2 linked regions of the Homo sapiens genome follow. The protein of the gene in region 2 purifies or fractionates together with the protein of the main gene of each other region. This does not show direct contact. Each region holds a gene or a part of one and is shown on either strand. Other genes may lie near its edges.

Evidence for each region. Proteins that work in one complex are often made in the same cells at the same time.
Region 1: the proteins of ROR1 (region 2) and DOCK2 purify together in Homo sapiens (affinity purification with western blotting; one study listed by BioGRID). This does not show direct contact.

What each region holds. Positions count from the first base shown.
Region 1 is NC_000005.10:169,643,775-169,647,274, forward strand, and holds part of DOCK2 (dedicator of cytokinesis protein 2), read left to right. Parts: intron 1-3,500. UniProt on the Homo sapiens protein: Involved in cytoskeletal rearrangements required for lymphocyte migration in response of chemokines. Activates RAC1 and RAC2, but not CDC42, by functioning as a guanine nucleotide exchange factor (GEF), which exchanges bound GDP for free GTP.
Region 2 is NC_000001.11:64,043,017-64,046,516, forward strand, and holds part of ROR1 (inactive tyrosine-protein kinase transmembrane receptor ROR1 isoform 1 precursor), read left to right. Parts: intron 1-3,500. UniProt on the Homo sapiens protein: Has very low kinase activity in vitro and is unlikely to function as a tyrosine kinase in vivo. Receptor for ligand WNT5A which activate downstream NFkB signaling pathway and may result in the inhibition of WNT3A-mediated signaling.

The DNA of each region.
Region 1 (3,500 bases), on a different chromosome or scaffold from region 2:
GGTGGACAGTATGACGTGCACACTGTCACGGCACAGGGTCTGAATGGGGTAATAGGCATTTGTTTGGTTGAATTAAATGGTGCAATGCCAGGCCTAGAGACACCCTGACTGACATGGTGGGCTGCAGCAGCAGGGCCATCCCAGTGTCAGCTGAACCTTGAGGGTTTGCCTGGAAAGTGGGTTTTTGCTGCTGGCTTCCCTGGCGGTGGCAGTCAGGGAAGGACCCTTCTAAGTAGAACGAATAGCCAATATAAAGAGGAGGAAGCCTCTCTGATGTGTGGGAGGCCAGTGTGGCTGCAGTAGAGTAAGCAAGATGCAAAGCAGTAAGGAATGGATTCTCTGAGAGAGGTCATAGGGAGCAGTGCCTCGTAGGTATTGTGAGGTCCTTGGCTTTTACTCTGAATGGGGGAGGGGGACATTGCAGGATTTGGAGTAGAATTGTAGGACGACCTGTCTTAAGTTTTAAGAGGATTGAACATAGCAGTTTTATGGTGCATTAATCAGGGGGAATTAAATGTGGAAGGAGAGGGACCAGTTAGGCAGCAACAGTGATAACTCAGGCCAAGAGATGGCGGTGGCTTGCAGCAGGAGGGAGCAGTGGAGACAGTGAGATATGCTTAGATTCGGGATGTATGTGTTGTAGGTCAAGCAAATGGGGTTTTCCTCTTGGAATGGATGTGGGTATGAGAAGGAGAGAGGAGCCAGTGGTGACTCCGAGGTTTCTGGTCTGAATAGCTAGAAGAATGAGGGCTGCATCGAGGCCTTCCCTAGTGAAAACCTTGATCTAAGTAGTCATCGACATTGGCATAAATCATGCCATTGCCTTACCTTTTGTACCACGGTACTTTTTTTTTTTTTTTTAATTTTACTGACAGTTCTGGGATACAAGTGCAGAACATGCAGGTTTGTTACGTAGGTATACATGTGCCATGGTGGTTTGCTGCACCTATCTTCCCGTCATCTAGGTTTTAAGCCCCATATGCATTAGCTATTTGTCCTAATGCTCTCCCTTCCTTGCAACTCCCCCACCCCCTGACAGGCCCCAGTGTGTGATGTTTCTCTCCCCGTGGCCATATGTTCTCATTGTTCAACTCCCACTTATGAGTGAGAACAGGCAGTGTTTGGTTTTCTGTTCCTGTGTTAGTTTGCTGAGAATGATGGCTTCCAGCTTTATCCCTGTCCCTGCAAAGGACATGATCTCATTTCTTTTTATGGCTGCATAGTATTCCATGGTATATATGTTGACATTTTCTTTATCCAATCTATCATTGATGGGCATTTGGGTTGGTTCCAAGTGTTTGTTGTTGTAAATAGTGCTGCGATAAACATACGTGTGCATATGTCTTTATAGTAGAATGATTTCTATTCCTTTGGGTATATACCTAGTAATGGGATTGCTGGGCCAAATGGTATTTCTCGTTCTAGATCCTTGAGGAATTGTTTTCCACAATAGTTGAACTAATTTACATTCCCACCAACAGTGTAAAAGTATTCTTATTTCTCCACAGCCTCACCAGCATCTATAGTTTCTTGACTTTTTAGTAATCGCCATTCTGACTGGCATGAGATGGTATCTCATTGTGCATTTCTCAGATGATCAGTGGTGTTGAGCGTTTTTTCATGTTTGTTGGCCACATAAATGTCTTCTTTCTAGAAGTGTCTGTTTATATCCTTTGTCCACATTTTGATGGGGTTGTTTGTTTCTTGTAAATTTGTTTAAGTTTCTTATAGATTCTGGATATTAGCCCTTTGTCAGATGAGTAGATTGCAAAAATTTTCTCCCATTCTGTAGGTTGCCTGTTCACTTTGATGATAGTTTCTTTTGCTGTGCAGAAACTCTTCAGTTTAATTAGATCCCATTTGTTAATTTTGGTTTTTGCTGCAATTGCTTTTGGTGTTTTTGTCATGAAGTCTTTGCCCATGCATATGTCCTGATTGGTATTGCCTAGGTTTTCTTCTAGGGTTTTAAATTTTTATTTATTTATTTTTTTGAGACAGAGTCTCACTCTGTCTCCCTGGCTGGAGTGCAGCGGAGCAATCTCGGCTCACTGCAAGCTCCACCTCCTGGGTTCACGCCATTCTCCTGCCTCAGCCTCCCGAGTAGCTGGGACTACACAGGAGCCCACCACCACGCCCGGCTAATTTTTTGTATTTTTAGTAGAGACGGGGTTTCACCGTGTTAGCCAGGAAGGTCTCGATCTCCTGACCTCATGATCCGCCCATCTCAGCCTCCCAAAGTGCTGGGATTACAGGCATGAGCCACCACGCCCAGCCTCTTCTAGGGTTTTTATGGTTTGGGATTTTACATTTAAGTTTGTAATCCATCTTGAGTTAATTTTCGTGTAAGATATAAGGAAGGGGTCCAGTTTCAGTTTTCCACATATGGCTGGCCAGTTTTCCCAGCACCATTTATTAAATAGGAGATCCTTATTCCATTGCTTCTTTTTGTCAGGTTTGTCGAAGATCAGGTGGTTGTAGATGCGTGGTGTTATTTCTGAGGTCTCTGTTCTGTTCCATTGGTCTATATATCTGTTTGAGTACCAGTCCCATAGCATGGTACATTTACAAAGCCCTTGTGTCATCATGTTTAGCCCTCACAGACACCCTAAGAAAAATAACTTCTGTCTTCATTTTGCAGGTGAGGAAACTGAGGCATAGATCTTTGAGGTCTCTCTGAAAATTCCCTCTATTTTATGGAAGTTGCCCCTTTTCACCTTGTCTTTTAGTTAGGTAACTGCATGTCATCTTCCCCACTAGCTGGTACATTGTTGGAGGGCAGAGCTGTATGGAGGGTTAACTTTGAGTCCATTCAGCATCACTGCAATAGCAGGAACGTGGTAGGTCAGAGAAACTAATCATTATTGTAGCATAGGTCCCATTGAGAATCCTGTGACCGCTAGAAACACACTTCTTCCCATTAAAATATGCACATGTGCAGTTCTGCATTGTAATGTCGCCAAAACTCATTCATGGAAGCCAGTTAAGGTCCCTGGCAAAATGTGCTTATTTTACTCTGTAACTATTTAGTAAACAAATACAATAGGTATAGCCAAAGCATTCTGCCTAAGGTTTGAATTCTTGAAGCCAGGAGCTTGTCAAGAGTCGGAAAACAATTCTTACAGTCTGTTCAGATCAATTAAGTTCAGTAAGCCTGTCCTGAGTGATGGTCCTTAGCTGGGTGTTTGGGCCCAGAGATGAATAAAACAGTTCGGGAAGCTTACAGTCCAGTCATAACCTCTCTTTCTGTATGAGGCAGCAGAGAGCACCATTATTAGTACTAATGTCCCCATTGGACAGGTTGGGGGCAGTGCCCCCTTTGCTTCATGTTACTAGAGCTGCCATCATCCCCTTCATACTTCCTTGCAGCCTCATGTTGAATGATCTGGGCACCTCTGTAGAATGCAAGCTCTATGATGGCAGGGCCATGTCTGTTGTTCTTCTTCAGCACAGAGCAGGTGCTCAGCGGCTGCTGATTGGATGGATGAAGAGGTGGATTCATA
Region 2 (3,500 bases):
TTTGATACCAAGACCCAGGCCCTAAACCTAATTGTGACTGGCTCCTCGGCTGACTGGCTGGGTTGCCATGGCAATGGACTGCTCAACTCTTTATATCTCAGTTTCTCTCACCTGTCAAAATGGGAATATAACACTTGGCCCCACCTTCCTCCCTGAGGAGAGATGGGGGCACTTTGAAAATTAAGTAATAAATGTTGGGAAGGATTTGTGGATTTGTGGATGTGACATCTTGTCAAGTGGGTAAATAATAAATGGGGTGTCTCCAAAGCTAATTTGCCTAAAATTCACTTGAGCCTTCCATTTACTTCATCAACCAGCGTTTATTAAATGCCTATGAAGTTCACAATAACACATGAAGTGCTGAGGGGAATACAAAAAATGTAAAAAGGAGGAAATAGAGTCTCAATTCCCAGAGAGGTCATAAAATAACTTTTTTCTTGCAGTTTGCTTTTTCTGGTTCATTAAGCCTCAGTACAGACCATGCCTGCACTGTATTTAAAAAGCTCATTCTCAATGATGACTTCCAGTTACGTCATAAGCAACTAGTGGTGATTTAGTTGTTTTCAGTACCAGTGGGTATTGTCACATGCTTGATGGACTCATAAAAAGGCAAGAATATTTTTTAGTTCAGGTTATGAGTGGTGCAAAGGACAATGAAAGACTACAGGTTGGATTGATTGGGAATCTGATTGCATCAGAACATAATATGGTCTCTGCTGTTCAAAGGCGTGGGTTTGGGTCCTGGCTCTGCCGCTTTCTGGCTGTGTGACTTTGGGAAATTCCTTAACTTCTCTGTGTCTCAGTTTCCTTATCTCTAAAATGTGGTCAGTTTTAGAGTCTACCTCATAGGATTGTTGTCAAGTTTAAATTAAAGTGTGTAAGATGCTCAGAATAGTGCCTGGCATTTTGTAAATGCTCAGAAAAATGTTAGCTATGATCATCACTTTCCATTGTTAATGGGAGAAGATGGTGGCACTAAAAGGATACTGGCATTTCATTTTCCTACATTGTAAAGGTAACAAATCCTTTTTAATTCAGAGTCCTAAACTTTTGCCCAGATCTGACACAATCGCTTGGGATTGCCCCAAAGCCCCAAACTGCTTGTTCGGAAATAGAAAACATGCCATCCAAGCCACTCTGCTCTCTGACTCATACCGTTCAGGGCCTGAGCTAACCCATTTTGTTCTGAAAGCCTTACACCAGTCTAGGACCCTGAGGGCTGGGAAAGGGCAGCTATGGAGTGTGATGGAAACAGCGCTGGGCTTGGTGTCCAAATCCTGGCTTTGCCTTTTATTAGCTGTGAACTCTGGGATAGGCTGTTAAGTCCTCTGAACTGCGGTTTACCCATCCTAATTGTGCAAAAGCAATGGTGGGTGAAACTGCTCAAACAAATTCAGACAATGGCACCAACGGTACCAAACTAGTGGTCACTGTACATTCCACTGCCATATACTTGTAGTTGAAAAGAAAAAAAAAGCCAATTGCACTTAAGAATATCTTCCATGGAGCAGTAAAAATTATTAATTGTATTAAATCTTGACCCTTGAATACATAGATTTTTAATATTTCATATGGCAGATGGGCAGTATACGTAAAGTACTCCTGCCAAGTACTATGACTGTCTCAAAGAAAAGCATTTGAGTTCTGAGCTGAACTAGCCACTTTTACTTTAAAGAATGACCGACAGAAAAATTATGGTTAGTTATTCTTGAATATTCTTTAAAATGAGGAAAATGAACCTGCCGCTTGAAGGAAACAGTAGTATTAATTGCCAATAATAAAATTTGAACTTTCCAGAAAAAGTTAGAATTTTGCGAAACTTTTAGCCACCATCACGAGCTTGACAACTTCTTCCCAATCATAACTGATGGCACTGGTGGTGATATTAATGCATTTGAATTTTCTATATTAGATAAGTAAGGGTGTCCACATTTTGAAAACGAACGTAACTCAGTAAACCAGTGTTCTCTAAACAGGCAATGCATGATGTTACAAAATCGTATGTAGGTAGAATAACCATTCAAAGTACAAGATAAATCAATCCATTATAATTTAATAGATTATGAAAAGTTTATTGATATGATTTCAGATTTCACATTGCAACCAACGTTTAAGAAACTACCACCTATCGAATTTTGGTGTAGTATCAAAGAAGAATATCCTAAATTATCTGAAAGACTATTAAAAACCCTTCCCTTTTCCAACTGTGCGAAGCCAGATTTTCTTCAACTAAAACAACATACCTCAACAGATTGAATGCTGAAACAGGAGGCTTCAGCTGTCTGGTTTTAAGACAATAATAGATATTCAATAATAAAAAAAAAATGCCACTTTTCTCACTATTTTTGGTATACGCGTGTGGAAAATATTATTTTACTAAATATTTTATTAAAATATTTATGTTAAGCAATGGGATTGTTTTTATTTTTAAATAGGTTAATAAACAAATATTTTAAAACTTTCTCCCCTCAGTGGCATCAATATTTTAAGGATTATCTAGGAGTCCTGAGACCAAAGAATTTGAGAACTTCTATCCTACAGCATGGACTCTGGAGCCAAAATAATTTGTTTAAAATCTCACTTCTACTTACTGTCTGTGTGATCTTGGACAACTTTCTTACCCTCTCTGTGCCTTACCCTCTCTGTTTTCCATGTGTAAAATGTTCATAACAATAACTGTCATGATGATAAATACCATTTAGGTGTTAGGTATTACCACCATCATTATGAAATCATTATTGTTGTCAGTGTCATCATCATCATTATTACTAGTATTAGCACTGGAAGGCATCATTTGTTCAGGGACACAGAGCTAGAGGTGGATTCAGTGGGACTGGAACTTTTCCCTTAAGCCAGACTATACCCTACCTCCCACTTACCATCTGCCATCTTGACATTTGCAGTCTAGGGAAGAAGGGAAAAAAAGATGAGAAATCTTCCATAGCTCAAGCACATATCATCAGAGCTACTGAATCAAACCATTGAAAAAGGTACAAACAGCCAGGTTTACACATAAAAGCCAGATTGCTTTGTCTGGCATTCAAGCTCACTGGACACCTGCTGCCTGTCATCCAGTTGTTCTGCAGCTGCCCATATAGAAACACAAACTGTCTCAGAAGAAGCAGACCCAACCCCAAAGGCCCAGATTATGAATCCAAAGCCCAGGGAGGTGAAGTGATGGTCTGACACACATCGCTAGAGAGTGGCAGAACTGCTACTTGAGTCTAGTGTGAATTCCCTCTGGACTGGACACCTTTGCTGGGATGCCCAGGTGTTCTCGTTCTGCTTACTAAGTAAGCAGCTACAGATGGCCAACAAATTTGAAACTTCTTCTTCGTCAGTGAAAAGTTAAAACCAAATTCCCTGTTTGTGGCAAGGCTCCTTTGTTCAGTAAACACAAAGATCTATTTACATTTCTTTTGTTCTCTCTGGAAACACACTGCTTGGGTCATCTACTACACTGATTTCAAGGTGCCCTGCAACCCTCATGTTGTTTTTAG